Linked DNA regions of Homo sapiens: region 2 is linked to region 1. A link means that fine-mapping ties the variant in region 1 to the expression of a gene that starts in the linked region. Tissue or cell type: spinal cord. Region 1 holds a variant in brackets; the other region holds the start of a gene. All regions are shown on one strand. Distances are between the middles of the regions.

Region 1 (8,000 bases):
CTGAGGCAAGAGAATGGCGTGAACCCGGGAGGCGGAGCTTGCAGTGAGCCGAGATCATGCCACTGCACTCCAGCCTGGGCAACAGAGCAAGACTCAGCCTCAAAAAAAAAAAAAAAAAAAAAAAAAAAAAAAATTACCTTTTGGCTACTTTTAAAGATTTTCCACATGAATGTTGGAACTACCCAACTTTCAATGAAGAAGTCTTAGCTCTATGCATTTGCAATATTTAACTTCTCCCACTTTTTCCAAATCTCTTAGATTTCAGCTGTTATGACACATTTCTAAGACCTTTATTCAGACCCTTACAGGCTTTTGAAAAGACTCTTTTTTCTTTAATATGAGATGTATTGTGTACCTATTACACTGAATGGCACTATAGAAAAATATGGCTAATCTGTATTTCTGTACTCTTTGTGAATGACCTAAATACAATGTTTACCACCACAAATTTGGTACAACCTACATGAAATAAGACTTCAGTTTTAAATATAATACTGTTCCACATAGTATGACAAATATATACTTGGTATATGAACCATTTGGTATGCTACAATACGACCCACCCCCAATTTAAACAGGCTTATCTGAAGTTTACAGAAGATTTAATATAGTTTACTAGATGATTAAATATAGGTATGGTTGTGCGTGTATGTGCATGCACACATATTTTGCTGAGTGGTTAATATAAAAGCTATGATAGAATGTGAGGATAAACACTGTATTAGCTAAGTACTGTAGAGTAAAAGAATTCAGAGGACCTGGACTAGGATAAAGAGCACAGGAAAAGAAGATGAGATTTCCATAAAACAAGCTTTGACAGCTTTGACCAACTCTTAACTGTCTGCCTGTAGTCTACATTATGTATGAGCAGAAAGTTTGTATTTCACATAGAAGCTTTCCAGTTATTAATTAGGAAAATGTTTACATATGGTATGTCACATGAGTAGGTTTATCTCCTTAGCCGACCAAAGTAATGCAGATATTAAAAAGAATATGTTGTCAGAAATAAATTATTCATGCTTCCTAACTTTTCTAATTTGGTAATTTGAAAACATTAATAGGATTTGGTCATTCTTAATTGTGTTGATGACTATCCTTGCTCTCTTTATTCTCAAGGCTAGTTGAAATTTATCTCATTTATATTAATTTTTCTGTCTGTGGCTTCTCAAAAGTAAAATAACTTCAGAAGCTTCATAAGTATGGAGAAAATGTTAGGTGAAACTTTGCAGAATCATTTATAATTTATATGAGATTTTTCTTTAGTTTTTGAGAACTATCACTTGAATATGTAATCATCAAACAGGTGGCCTTCCACTTATTTGATATGATAGAAGAAAACTTCTAACATTCCAATTTAAATATTTTATTTGAAAATTCACTGCTATAATAACACTATAACATTAAGGAGAGCTGTGTTGTAAACATAGTCCTTCTTTTTAAAAATGGGAACTCTTATTTTATCCTGTAGCTGTTATATTCATCTACTCATTTTTAGTGTTGCTTTCACCAAACAACATGTCTACAGTAAATATATTTCCATTTTATGATTACAGGGAAGTGATTCCTAATGAAAATGAGAACAGAGTGCTCAAATTGGGGTTAGACCATCCCTGTTGTGTCATAGTTTCCACTGTTGAAGTAAAATCCCAACTGAAAAATAATAGGTCTTGTTAGTTGGCAGGCAGGTTTCACTGAGTAAACTAAGTTGCTTTCTAGGATTTTGTGCAGAAAAATTCTGCAATGCTAAAATTCTGCAACGCTAAAATTCACATAACACTTAAAACTGACATCGAGAGTAGTGGCCCAATCACTATGGGAGTAATCAACAACTGTAAAAGTTTTTTGGCTTTAGCCTCTGCTGTGAAAAAGCATGAGAAGTATTTATGAGAATAAAGAGGCCTAAGGGATTGCATTTTCCACAGTTTATTGGACATCTCTACTTGGACAACCACAGACTTCTCAGACCCTACTAGCCCAAATGGAACACATAATTTCACCCTCAAACTCACTCCTCTTGCTGGACCCCAAACTCAGTGAATGGCCTACTGTTCTTCTAGTTGTCCCAAGTGTCTTCCTGTTCCTCGCTGTCACACATATTGAATGCCAGTTCCCGTTCAATCTATTTCCTAAGTAGCTATTTCCTAAATCTCTTTACTTTTCATTCTCCCCTTGCTGCTGGTCCAAGCCATGAGTACCGGTCTGAATTATTGCAGCAATGTCCCAGCTGGTCTCCTTTCCTTCAGCACTGTCCTTCCCCAATACACTCTCTACAGCACAGCCAAATACTACAACCTCAAAGACTTTCCCTTTTGTTGGAATGAAGTCCGGAATTCTTAACATGGATAGCAAGGCCTGTTATTTTCTCTTCCTTGTATTATTCTCAGCTTCATCTCCCATCATTCTCCAGAGCATGTGCAACTGTCCTCTCTGCACCCTAAACTCCACCATATGCACATTCAGTAATGTGGTAATGTCAAGAACTCTCCACTTTCCAACTTTGCATATGCTCTTGTCTCTGCCTGCCCTGTCCATCATCTTGCTAATTTCTATTCACACTGTAGGCTTTAGTGCCTCTTCCATGAACCATTCATGAACTCCACATCACCCAGTCCTAAAATCAAGGATGACTGCTTGCATAACATCCTATATTCTGCCTCATCCTGGAAGTGATTATACTTCATTGTAATTGATGTTTACTCATCTAGCTTTACCACTGGACCTCTGGCTTCACAAGAATCACATATGTGAGTATCTTGCTCACTGTACAACCTTAGCCCATTATAGTGATAAGCCCATGGTAGGTGCTCCACAAATATTTGTTAAGTGAATTAATCTGAATGCAGATATGTACAAAGACCACAGAGTTCAGATTTTTGTCTATGCCCTTAGCTATCATGTCAAAGAACTGGAGGGTAGTGCATAATAACTAGCTGTCTTATTACAACGTACCTCCCTGCAATACAGTTTCACCCACCCTACCCCCCAAAAAATTCTAATCACTAGCCAGATTTAAATCTATTTGACTCTACTTCTTTCAGTGTTGGTAAGAGCTATAGCAGCCATTACTTAAGAAGAGAGTTAAATTACTAATATCTGTCTACCCATTTCTCTGAGAAAATGAAATTACTTCTCTACATAATTAAAACACCATTTCTTTGAACTTGATGAAGAAGCCAATTTTCTTTTGTGTTCCTGCCTCAAAAAAGAATATATGTCTAGAGAGAATATTAGAGAAGTTATTCCATAAGATATAACTTTCTGCTAGAATAAACTTCATTATTCCTACAAAATTATGGAAGTAGCTGGCTATACTTCTCTGCTTACCTCTTAATTTTTCAAAAATAACAAAAATAACAAAACTAAATAAAAGTCTACCCCATATTTTCTAAAATAGAATTCTGCTAAAACACACACACACAGACACATACATACACAAACACACACACACGAACTATGAATTTCTATACCATTCTTCAAAATTCTAAATATTGTCAAAGTCATTTTAAGAGAAACAGAACTAGTTTAGTTAGTGTACATCTGTCCTATGGTATTCTTTGCACCAGTGGATCTCAGACTCTAGCATACATCAGAGTGTCCTGGAGGTCTTTGTAAAATGCAGGTTGCTGGACTGCTCCCTTCCACCTAGAGTTTCTGATTCATTAGGCCTGAGATGGAACCAGATAATTTGCATCTCCAGCAAGTTCCTAGGTGATATTGATGCTAACCTGGGGAACACGCTTTGAGATGTGACTTATACGTGTAACTAACAGTAGGGAAGCACATTTAGTTCTGTCCATGCAGTTCTATCAGGCATTTTGACATGTGCTGTCCTCTTGCTCTCTTTCTTTCATTTTTTTTGGTACCAATATCTAACTCAGCATTACTGCCTAAATACATAAAGCCTGTATTCCATGCTGAAACTTAACAGCACAAGTGTACATCATTTAAAAAAACGAAAACAAAAAAAACCAAAAAACAGAAAAAAAGAGGGCTATTTCTGCAAGTTAAAAAATTAAATGGAAAAACAACCCCAAAATTGCTCTAAGGAGGTTTTGCCTTCAATAGCAAAACATGTTTTGCCTCAATTGTGATTTCTTTGTTCGGGAGCCAAGG[T/A]GGCAATTAAGCTGGCACAAGGAGCAGGAGCCATTTATTTAATATGATGACAGCGTAGCCCTTTGTAAATCCTGGAACAATGAGGGCCCACACACAGGCTCATTCCAAGTTCTAGTTCCTTCTCTTCCCTGTTGCTCAGTGTGAATTCTCATAGCCACAAAGGAAGGGGAAGATTTTCAATCCTGTCACATCCTCCCCCATTTAAACCATTTATAGTCTTAACTTATAAGATATGAGTAAGAAATCTTCTTTAAACATTTTGCAGAGCTGATCATCAAATCTAACAAACTGGTGGTTTTGAAATCTCCTTTGCTCCAAAGACATTCCATTAACCTCTGTGTCCTCTGTTGTGTCATTGTGCTGAGAAGAGCAAGTTAAAAATCCAGTCTTAATTGGGGCTTGGTGGTAGGATTATTTTTATCTTATAGATTTATTTCAATATTCATTTTAGGAAGAAAGAAGACCTTAGGAAGGTCTAATTCTCATCAGTTCTGGCATAAGCTGAGTTAGGGATCTCAGAATTTAAAGAAACGACGCCCTTAATAATGGCATCTGAAGAAGCAAGTGTACCATGCTGTGACAATTACAAGATACTACATCAGTTCCCATCCTCTACTAGGCTCTTTTAGGATGGAGACTCTGTCTGGTTCACTGCTTTATCTCTATAATTTACAATAGTACTCAGAAAATAGAAGGCGCTCAGTATGTAGCAATTATTGCCTGACTGGCTGTCTCTGTAAGCATTACAGGGAATGTACAACCAAAATGTATAAAGTGTAACATGACACCAAAGTTCATAAATTAAATGTTATCAAAATAGATTGTTTTTATAAATGAAGAAAATTAATCAGAAGATATCTTTTTAGAATATAACAACCTCTAACACCCAGTCTACAAATATACCCATCATCAAACTTCTGGCAAATGTTCAAAGTAAATAAACACCTATCATGACTTAAATACCTGGCTTTATACTTCAACAGTGTTCATATGAGTAAAAACATTTTTGCTTAAGTTGTCTACCAGTTTATAATATGGGAAGGAATTCCCCATGGGATACTATCTCCTCCCCCTTTATATAGGGAATACAAGTTTGGCTAAATACTTTATCATAATTGTGCAGAAAGCACATGGCCTTATAAAAGGGCAATCACATATATTATCAATGGGATTGATACTATTATCAATGGTTTCCTAAAAGCAGCCTCTCCATTTTGCAAGTCTATCAACTTATAGTTCTTTACCTTCCCTTCAGCTGAATCTACTCACTTCAGGCTCAGCCTGAGTTCCTGAAAGAATCCTGCCAGGGTGGGACCCATTATAAGGATTTTAATTGCATCTAGGTCATGACACTCAGATCTGGATCTAGGGGTGACTGCTGGCTTCTGCATGATCTACTCTTCTTCTCAGGCTGCCCATTCCCTGAGATCTACTTCATGGACACTAGATCCTGTGCCTGATGTTCAAATTAGGATGGCCTCATACCACAATGTTTTGTTGCCCCTTCTAGCTTTGGATCTCCTGTAACCCCAAATAGCCTAATCTATGCCGGGCCCTCTTATGCCCTTTTGATACTATTTCTCAAATGACTCACAAGACCAGCCTCTAAGGTCAAGCTAGTTCTCCCAGGTCTCTTCTAGTATCCTAGTGCTATTTTTTTCTCTGCCAAGTTCTGATTTCTTTTCCAGTCCCTGTTGCTAAAATCCTACTGAATCCCTCACAGCCACCCAAATCCTGGCAAGGTATGATTTTACCATCTTAAGTTCATTTTCAGGGCTGAGCGTATAATAATGACTGGTCATGCAGCACCCAGTGATCACACTGTACAGAGAGTACAGACATTGGGATGGAGGAAGGGCAAAAAGAGGCCCTTGATACTGAAACATATTTTCAGAGAGTAATATAATTGGTGAATTCTCATATGCTGTGAGGATCAAATTGATGAACCATTTTAGCACTCCCACAAGAATTCTGCTCCCTCATTTCTGCACAGAATTTCATCTTATGAAAAAGTTCCACAATTGTTAACATACTATAGCATCTCTTCATGCCAAGTAGTTTTGTATTTTAAGAATTACAAAATGCACTCATCAAATAATTTTGGCACATAATATATATTTCTAAATTCCAGAACAAATCTCTCTCTTGAAATTCTATTTAAAATACAACCTGGGCTTGTACACCATCCAGTATGATAGAAAAACATATAATCAATTCATAGAAGACCAACACCTGCCCTACAGGTGCTAGAATTTGACATCTTGTTGAAATTAGATTGAAATTTAGTATACAGTATGTAAGAAAAAAGGCAGACTACAATATTTCCTGCTAGTGGACATCATTCAGGCCTCAGAGATGAAATGTGCAAAACTCTTCTAGAAATACTAATCAACTGAAACAAGCCGCCTCCAAAACAGTAATGTGGTCAGTCTGCATGCTGCCAGGTAATTTACAATCCATGACAAGCAGAGCCAAGTGAAAGTTATTTACATTTATTCTACTGGTAGAATAGAAGAGATGAGAGTGAAAAGGATCTGCTGAATCAGATCATGTTTGACTGAGGAGTGACAGGGAAGTTTTCTTCAATTAATAGCCAGCTGCATAATTTGAGCTAATGCCAGCTGGACTTTCATCATGAAACGACACAGAAATAAATTATTCTGTACTCAGGTGCTGGCATAGTGAAGTGAATTAATCCACTTAAATCTGGAGGAGGGAGAGAGAAAGTAGATTACACTATCTGAATTTTTTGAGCCTGTTTTAGCCACACTTTAAGGATACTGAGGTTCATGATAATTATTAAAATGTCCAAGTGGATCCATTTAGACTCAAATACTTGCTTGAATGAACAAATTCTTAGAAGGGAGGAACCAGAGTAGAAATGGCTTTATCAAGGTCATGGTGGTTTCTTTCACCAATTAGTGAAATTCATATTCAACTCAGAAGGTCAGGGGGAAGTGGGCAAAAAGAGTCTTATTAAGAACAACTTTATAGGGGAATTCTTGAGGGGGTAAAAAGGTGACTACAAAGATATAAAGGAATCCAGGACAGGTTTAGAGAGGTCAACTGCCTGCTGGTTCATTCAGAAAAGATTAACAGACCCAGCTGCTGGGACTTTTCTGGCTAGGCATCCTTCCCAGTGGTCACAAGTCAATGTGTCTCCTGGCTGCTTGGCTATGTTCCCATCCGTCTGGATGGAAGAGCGCCCACCCCTACACGCCAGAACTTTTCCTTAGGGGAAAGTTACTGAGGTTCCACGTCAGGCAAACTTTGCTCACCCATCACTTCAAGTAAACAACTCTTCTATGGAGATTTCTTAGAGAAAAAATGCACTTGAAAGCATCTAACCAAAGCAATGAAGGTGGAAAAAACAAGTTATGTGGGAATCTGAGTATAGAATATACAGACATAAAATAAGCTCTCCAAATGAGGAAGCAGTCACAGCTTGACCTCTGAATTGTTTGCTGTTTGTTCCTTCAATATTCAAACTGTAGCCCTGGAAATACAAACACAAACTTCTAAACACTCACAGGCCTGTGGCAACAAAATGCTACATGCCAGCTTCACAACTGGGGCATGCAGACCATAAATCCTGTAGTGGCAGGAGGGGAGGTGTGGAAATAGACTGTCATCATTCTGCAGCAAGGAAAACTAGGTACAAGGAAAAGGCAACTGGCAACACATTCCTGGATTCTCTCATTCATTGAAGAAGGAACTCAGGGATTGAATTACCCAATTGACGCTAGTTCTACCCATGCCAGAGGGCAAAAGTTCCAAGACTGCCACAGGCCATGGTTGCTTGGAATTTAGGCAGAGGTGCTTGGTCCTTAGAGTGTAGCAGAGAGAAGTTCTGGAAAAGGAGCTCCTCATCGAGTCTGGTAATGAGC
Region 2 (8,000 bases), 350 kb after region 1:
TGTATCCCAGCACTTTGGGAGGCCGAGGCGGGTGGATAACTTGAGGCCAGGAGTTTGAGACCAGCTTGGCCAACATGGTGAAGCTCCATCTCTACTAAAAATACAAAAAATTAGTCAGGCGTGGCGGCTCGTGCCCGTAGTCCCAGCTACTTGGGAGGCCAAGGCAGGAGAATCCCTTGAACCTGGGAGGTGGAGTTTGCAGTGAGCCAAGATTGTGCCACTGCACACTCCAGCCTGGGTGACAGAGCGAGACTCTGTCTAAAAAAAAAAAAAAAAAAAAAGCTAATGTCAAGTAAATATAATATGCGCAGAATTTATATTTTGTGTGATTATAGGTTTTAGCTCTTTTCCTTCTACCTAAATTGAGTCAGGCATGGTGGTTCATGACAGTAATCCCAGCACTTTGGGAGTCTGAGGCAGGAGGATCACTTGAGCACATGTGTTCAAGGCTACAGTGAGCTATGATTGTGCCACTGTACTCCAACCTGGGTGACAGAGCGAGACCCAGTCTCTAAAAAAACAATAAATATAAATAGATAAAAATAAATGAATCAAACAAAGTATCTAAATCAAATGTCCCCTTCTGGATATTTGTATCACTATAATCCAGAATATTTTATAATATCAAGGAATCATCCATGCTGCTTGTATTTTCAACCTTAGTGTATTATATTATTGAAAATAATATTTTGTTGTGTAAAGTCAAAGAAACAATAAAATTATTTATCAGTTCAGTTAAATAGTTGTCACATTTTGAAGACTATTGGTTGAAATGATTAATCTGATATGTACATTTTTAAAGAGTGTTTTAAACATTTTTCATATTTCATTTTGTTCTCTTGGTAACTTAGAGACTCATTTCTCTGGTAATTTTATTGTTTGAAATTTCTTGCATGTTGAGATTAAGACATGAATCTACCTTGTTTGACAGACACACTTTATATAAAAAATTTATTTAACATATCCAAATTTCCCATGGACTTAAAAGAATTGACCACAAAATATCTAAGGGTTGTCTCCTTACTGCTTATATACATTTTTTCATTAAACAAGATTCCTCTTTCCCATTGCTTCACAAACTGTTACAAATTCTCAAAATTTCAGCCAAGATAATATCTGGAAATGCTACAGTGCATGCTAGAAATAGCTTTATAAAAGATATACCTTTCTTGATAATCCATAGGGAATCATTCATCCATCCACCCATGAGGCTTTTTCAGAGACATTAACTTGATAGACTATTTAAACCCCCCATTTGGATGATGGTAAGATGGTGGTGCGCACGTACACACACACACACACACACACACACACACACACACACACACCTTTTCTTGTTTGCTTTTAGAAAATTATTGAAAAAGACGTTAGATGTTCTCACTAGCTTTAATTTATCTGAACACTCTTTCATAAGTATTTATATGCATTTTACAAAGTCAACAAATACACTGATTTGCCTCTGTTGTGATCATTAACACCAGTTTATACTGCCCAGAGTTTCTAAAGTTAAAATCTCTAATTACTTCTAGAAGCTTGTGATATATGTCATTTTGTTAAAAATGGATTTAAACCATATCTCATTTTTAGTTCATTCAGGCTTTATGTCCTGTAGTATCAGTCGATATAAACTTCACGTTGGTTTCATGTATTTCTTGATGCTGTCAACAGGCCCAGGTTCTGCACACATTTATTTAAGGTGGGCTCACCACCTTTGATGAGGCAGGAGACTTGGGTTTCAGTCTTAGCTCTAGCACTCACAGTCTATGTGATACTGAACAAATTGCTCGCATCTTCTGGGGCTCAGCATTCTTGTCTATCAAATAGAGATAATACCATCTCATCTCAGTGTTGTTGTAGGATTCAAATAAGTTAATAAATGTAAAATTTCTTTGATAATTTAAAAGCATTGTTGCTGTTCTCTTTAAAATAAAAAAGTATTGTTGCTGTTCTCTTTAAAGAATGAAACTAATATCCATGTCCTCCTTAAAGATGTATTTATTTGCAAAAGCAACTCTATTAAGGAAAAACATGACATGCAATGTGTGAGCATGTGGGGAATATGCAAGTATTGTAAAGAATTTTAAGTCTAAGGATCCTTAAATAGAATGACAATGATATATCAGGTGAGCCACAGTGGCAGCTACATATAAATATTATACATCTTAGTTTGCCTGTGAACCATTCAACTAAAAATTTCAAATAGAACAATTAATCAATGTAGAAAGCATAGCAAAAAATAAATTCAAATCAATGATGCAATACCTCTATTCCAATTAGCTTATTTTTCTTTCTTCCACTCTCTCAGGCATATTCTATTTTATTAAAAAATGAAGTCAATTAAGAAACTCTACAAAATCAATCAGCCCACAGATCAAGCTAGAACTCTTGTTCTTATTTAATGTTTATTAAGGGCTCATCATCACACGGTATTTTTCTATTAATAGGTCAAATATACAAAGTATCAGGCTTGCCTTCATTCTATCATTGGGGTCCTACATAGTGTCGTGCTCAACCAAAGGGGAGAGAGAAGGACATCCACCTCTTCAAACAAAGGGTCTTAGCAGTCTTGGCTGAAAAATGAAACTTTTATATTAATTTATGGAAGTCTGCAGTCTTTGATCTGAATTGAGGTTATTAATTACAATTCTTATTCTTCCCATCCAACAGGTACAAGAACATCTCCAACAAGGTACCTAAGGGTGTGAGCCAGGCAAAGGGCTAAGAGCATATATGCAAGCTGAAATGATGTGTACACATCAGGGTTATGATAGTTTGGCTGGATTCCCTTGTACATAGTGTATACAACAGAGAGACATGCTCACACACACACACACACACAAAACTCAAACACACATTTGAACACCATTATGATTTTCTGATCAGTCCAACCTACTGTCAATCAGAGTTGGACAAACAATCCCAGCCCTAGATTTTCCTGTTTCCACACCCAGACCTGATTTACAATTTATAACTGCCCATTGTTCAGACTTGTGGCTTGGAGGTGCAGTACATCGATGCCTGTCCACATCTAAGGTTAGATGACGACCCCTCTACTTTACTATTAGATGTGCCAAGGATCAGCAGCTCCTGAAATCTTTTTCCTGTGCCTGTGTGGGGGAGGGGATTCACGGCGTGGAAGGCCTGGGACAGGGAAGAAAGGAGCTGTCCCTGGGTTATCAGGAAAGGGACCAAACGTGGGCCCCACATCCACCTCCACGCCTGAGTTAAGAATCTGGAGCTGACTCCTCAGAATGGCTGTAATTGGTCCTTTACTCATTTCCTTGGAGAAGCAGCGGTCAACTTCTACTAAAACTCCCGGTTGATAGGCGGCTTCCCTGCCCTGTCTTCCGGAGCACTTACGTTAAGGGGAAATCACTATAATCAAATCTCTACGTCTTGCCTGCTGCTAAAACAAGGCGCTTTCTTCCTGGGATTTTGCAGGGACGACTGATACACACACGGTCTCCCTACACACAAGCTCGCACACACCGACACAGTGTAACTCCCACAGCGTCCTCGCTCCTTCTCCCTCCCTCACCCCCTTGTCTCTCTCAAGGATTGCTGAACATTTTGCTCCAAACTCTCCAAGTCACCCACGTGTTCTCCCCTTTTGCTATTCAATTTACTTCTCCACCTGACGAAGAGAAATGCGAGTTGTTCTTAGGCTTTTAGCTGCAATCCTGGGACCAGGCTTTCTCACTCCCCCCTCCTCCCCAGTCAGAGCAGCCCCACCGACCCTCTTCCCAATAGGGTGAGTGGACAGATGCTGGGTGCTTTCGCTGGTCAAATCCCGCAAAACCTTCACCTTCTCTTCTTCTCCACCCAGAGCAAACTGATTTTGCCTGTTTAGTCTCACTAGCCAGGGTGGTATGGAAGTGGGTGGGGAGAGGGCTGGTGCGTGGCACAGATAACTGGGAAGCGCGCGCACCACACACACACACACACACACACACACACACACACACACACACGGCCCCAGTTAACATTTATGCAGTACTTTTGGGGGGTCTCTTACACACACCTGAATAGCATACTCTCAATAAAGGATAGGCACACCCCTGTTTGTCCTCCCCCAATTTCCAGACTAGCATTTTACCCTGGGTCTAGAATTGGTGGTGATAAGCCGACTTAGATGGAGTATTTGAGAAAAGGGGAGGTGACCCTTTGCCTGAATGGGGGAGGGGGCGCTCTCCACTCACCGCCTGAGTCCCTGGAACGAGGAGGGCCAGGACATCCTGGATTTCTTCAGGCCGGGCCGGTGGCCGGTCTCCACCGCGTAGGAGGTGCGGTCCATGGCGCGACAGTACAGGTAGCGCTCGGTGTCCGAGTAGCCGCGATGCCGGACGCGGCCGGTGGCCCCGCTCGAGGCGTAGCGGCCGCGGGCAGCCCCGGGCGGCGGCGGGGGCGGCGGCAGGGGGGGCGGCGGCGGCGGCTGTAGCGGACACTGGGGCTGGGGCTGGGGCGAGGGTGGCGGCGGCGGGGGCAGGTGGTGATGGGGATGCAGGAGGCGGAACTGGGGCTGCCGGAGCGGGTACTGGTGGTGCTGCTCGTGCCTCCAGAGATGCTTGGGGGCTTTGAGCGTGGCCCCGCCGGCGCTGTCGCTGCCCTCTCCGCTGCCCGCCCGGGCCGGCGCGCTGCTGCCCTCTGCCTCCATCCTGGCTCGCGGCTCCGCGACCTGCTGCCCAGCCCGGGTTCACCGCGCTGGCCCGAGCGCCTTCCTGATGCTGCTGCTGCTGCTGCCGCCGCCGCCGCTTCTGCAGCCCAGCAGAGGCTGGTGCTTAGCTTCTCACTTGAAGGCGCCAGAGCCTCAGGGCTACCGAGAGGGGGCCCTGCCAGCGGGAGGGGTCACAGAACGCGGCAGGGCTCCTTCCACCGAGGCTATGGCAGAGACACGCTCCCGGGCTCCCCAAGTCACCAAGACTAGGGTGCGCGGTGCCCGGTTTCGCCAGAGGTTGGTCCTTCTTCCTCCCTTTCTTCTTCCCTTCCTTTGGGCGCCGGCGGCGAGAGCAGGGATTGTCAGCAACTCGGGCTGCAGAAGCAGCAGCAACGGCGGCGGCGGCAGTGGTAGCCGCCTCCAGGGCACCGGAACCCTGATCCCGGAGCTGCTGAAAAGTTGGACAGCTCCAGGCTGGCACGCCCGAGCTGTGACTTTCACCAAAACCACTCCAGCCAGTCAGGAGTCAGACCTGTCCTCTTGATCCTTCCCCTCGCCGTGCCCGCGCCTCCCTCCTCCACACTGCTCCCCACTGCCCCGGAGCCTTCCTCTTCACCTCCGCTTGCCTCAGTGCTCTTAGAGAAATGGAGTTTGGCGATTCCTGGCTGGTTCTCAGAGCTTGTTGACGATGAGCCCCATGCTGGTGCTTCCAAAGATAAGGAATGTGACCAGGCAAAGTTGCCTGGAATATTGTCTATGCGCGTCGCTGAAAAATTGGATCTGGGTGAAGATCCAATAGTAAGATTAATTCAGTCTCTTTCCCTGACATAGGATAAAACATTGTGTGGCTCTTTCCCACAGCAGGGAGAATGCCCAATGTTTCCTCTTGAAGATCTTCCTCCAACTTGGCCTCGGGAGTGGTCCTCGCTGGAAATCAAGGCGAGTCGTCCTTAGTTGCAGAGCCATGGCTGAGCCCGCTGGCCAGAGTTAAGGTTAAGGCACCTTTTCAATTACAAACCTCTGATTATCTTCGGTAGTCTCTATCTTCAGTGCCTGCCTGCAATTTGCCTTTCTGCCACTTCCAGCAGAACACAGCTCTATTACTAAAGTGTTTTAAAAACATGTTGTATCAATATTCACAGAAATTAGAGTCCTATGAGGCACTAGAATCCAAATTCAACTTTTGTCTTCCTTTAATTAGCATTTTCCTGCAGTGTCAAATGTTTTTTAAAGAAGCCAAGAGGATTTCAGGGCAATATATAGACACTTTTTTCCCTGTACCTTTTTTATTTGACCATATTACTTAAAGATGAAATGCAATTTGCTTACTGTTAAAATAATTCTAGAATTTTTCTTTGTGGAAGTTACCACGTACCATCCATTATTTGAACGATAATATATTTAGGACTCACAACAACTTGTTGGCTGTGTAATTATTCTATTCTTCCCACACACTCAGTCTTAACATATTTTCATATGTACATTTCAAGCATATCATGTAATGGATGCTAGAGTACCAGAATCAGGAACCATGTCTCAAACTCTCTAGACTGCTGAAAATTCAACACTCTCCACACAGTCTAGATGCCACTGGGAAAATAATGCCAATGAAAATAAGTGCTCACTTTGTTTATCAGCAAGAACAGTCCACGAAATGTGCAAGTGGCAGGAGAAGGCCTTCATCATCTCTTCATGCTATTTATTTATTTATGGTTGGAAATATACCTTTCCTCCATCAGTTTAATATGAGCCCTCTGCTCATATGTGGACTATACACAAAATCTGAGAAAGGTTGTGTCTTAAGAGAAACAAGGCAATCTCCTAAGCACCACTCTCCACTGTGTAGGATTAAACCATACTTTACAAAGGCACTCTTTTTGCCCCTTTTGCAGACACAAGTGTGACTGGTGGCAGTGGTCAAAGTATTTACCATGCCTAGGAGGGCACTAAGCCAGTATTTTCCCAAACACAAAAGGAGAGAAATGGAAGTGTTCTGCAGTATAGACTGCCTTTTTCTTTTAATTCATTGCATTATTAACATCCAAAACCATTTTAAAGAAGTACACAAATTTCTTCTTTCCCCTGAAATGCTTGCCACCTTTCGCCTCAATATAACTGTGGCAAAATACCTCTATCCGAAACTCTTATTCTAATTTCTCATACACTAACAGTACAAGTGACTTATAATTTTTTTCCAGATTAAATTGGAATAATTCAAATCCAACCTGATTTTCACCACCAATTTGCTCCTTCCTTTTTACTCATGAAAACTTTATCTTTTATATATTTCCCACTGATTTTTAAAAATTCTTTGTTTTGTTTTTACTATGTAATTGCAAGTCAGGAACATTTTAAAATGTAAGAAAATCATTTAATATGTTTCCAACTTGTAGAGTTTTTAATTTAACTTATAATTCCAAAATGTTATTGATAGTAATAGTTTCTTGTGTGATCTTTGAGGTTACAGCTTGAGTTCCAATCTACCACTTCCTACCCATGTTACTTTAGCTAAATTATTTACCATCCCTGTCTCCCATATGCAAAGTAGTACTAATATTACCTACTTCACAGAATTTTGCAATTATTTAATGAAATAATACTTAGCACAATGCCTTATATGCAATGAATGTTTAATAAAGGTAGCAATTTTTATTATTCCTGCCAGGCTGGGAAGTATCCTAAATATCATGTTAATCAGCAGTTCCCAGTCTTGGCTGTACCTAGGGAATATCACCTGGGGGAGCTTGAAAAAAAATGTCTGATGTTGAACCTAGAGCAGTGATTCCAAACTTTGATGTTATCAGAATCACCAGGAGAGCTAATCCAGCACACAAAGACCCAGGCTCCATGAAGCAGGATAGGGCTTGAGGCTTTATACTTTTACCAAATTTGTGAGAAGATGCTGCTTCAGTGTAAAGTTTGATCATCACTACCCTGCCTAGACAAATAAAATCAGTATTTCTAGGGGAGGATCAAGGCATCGGCATTTTAAAAAACTCTTCATGTGATTTCATACATCAGCAACTACTGATCCAGACTTACTCTCTCATTAAATGGTTGCAAAAACACTGTAGATACTATTAGTTGACTCGCCCTTGTGTCTCAAATACTTCTAGGGAAGTCCAGCTTATAAGCAAAGTTCTCATGAAAATATGCACTTTATGTATTACTCTAGTTGCCTCTATGCTAAAAGAAAATCTTATACTGCTGAATATTGAGCACTCCCAGCCTTCCATTTAAAAACTCTTCTCATTAATCTAGGTATTTCCTACTTTTAATTAAAACAACAAAAATGTAAAATATTCCATCTACCCATTGGTTTTCCCTGCTTATATGTTAAATAAAT

Alleles and levels. Positions count from the first base shown, and alleles are read on the strand shown. Sizes are in standard deviations (SD) of each study's normalised expression.
For the expression in spinal cord of the gene that starts at base 4,758 in region 2, T is the low allele of the variant in region 1 and A is the other (moderate effect, 0.54 SD a copy in GTEx).

The links. PIP is the estimated chance that this variant, and not a neighbour inherited with it, causes the effect.
Region 2: it holds the start of PDE4D, and the variant in region 1 is fine-mapped to the expression of PDE4D in spinal cord (GTEx, PIP 0.98).

Annotation. Positions count from the first base shown.
Region 1 is chr5:59,536,404-59,544,403 of GRCh38, forward strand. The region is part of intron 1 of PDE4D (phosphodiesterase 4D); the gene reads right to left. Among named protein-coding and RNA genes, the nearest start is that of MIR582, 160 kb to the right of the region's middle. The variant T/A (reference allele first, on the strand shown) is at 4,114.
Region 2 is chr5:59,888,969-59,896,968 of GRCh38, forward strand. It overlaps PDE4D (phosphodiesterase 4D), which reads right to left and starts at 4,758. Exons shown (of 15, transcript NM_001104631.2): 1 at 4,200-4,758. The coding sequence starts at 4,654.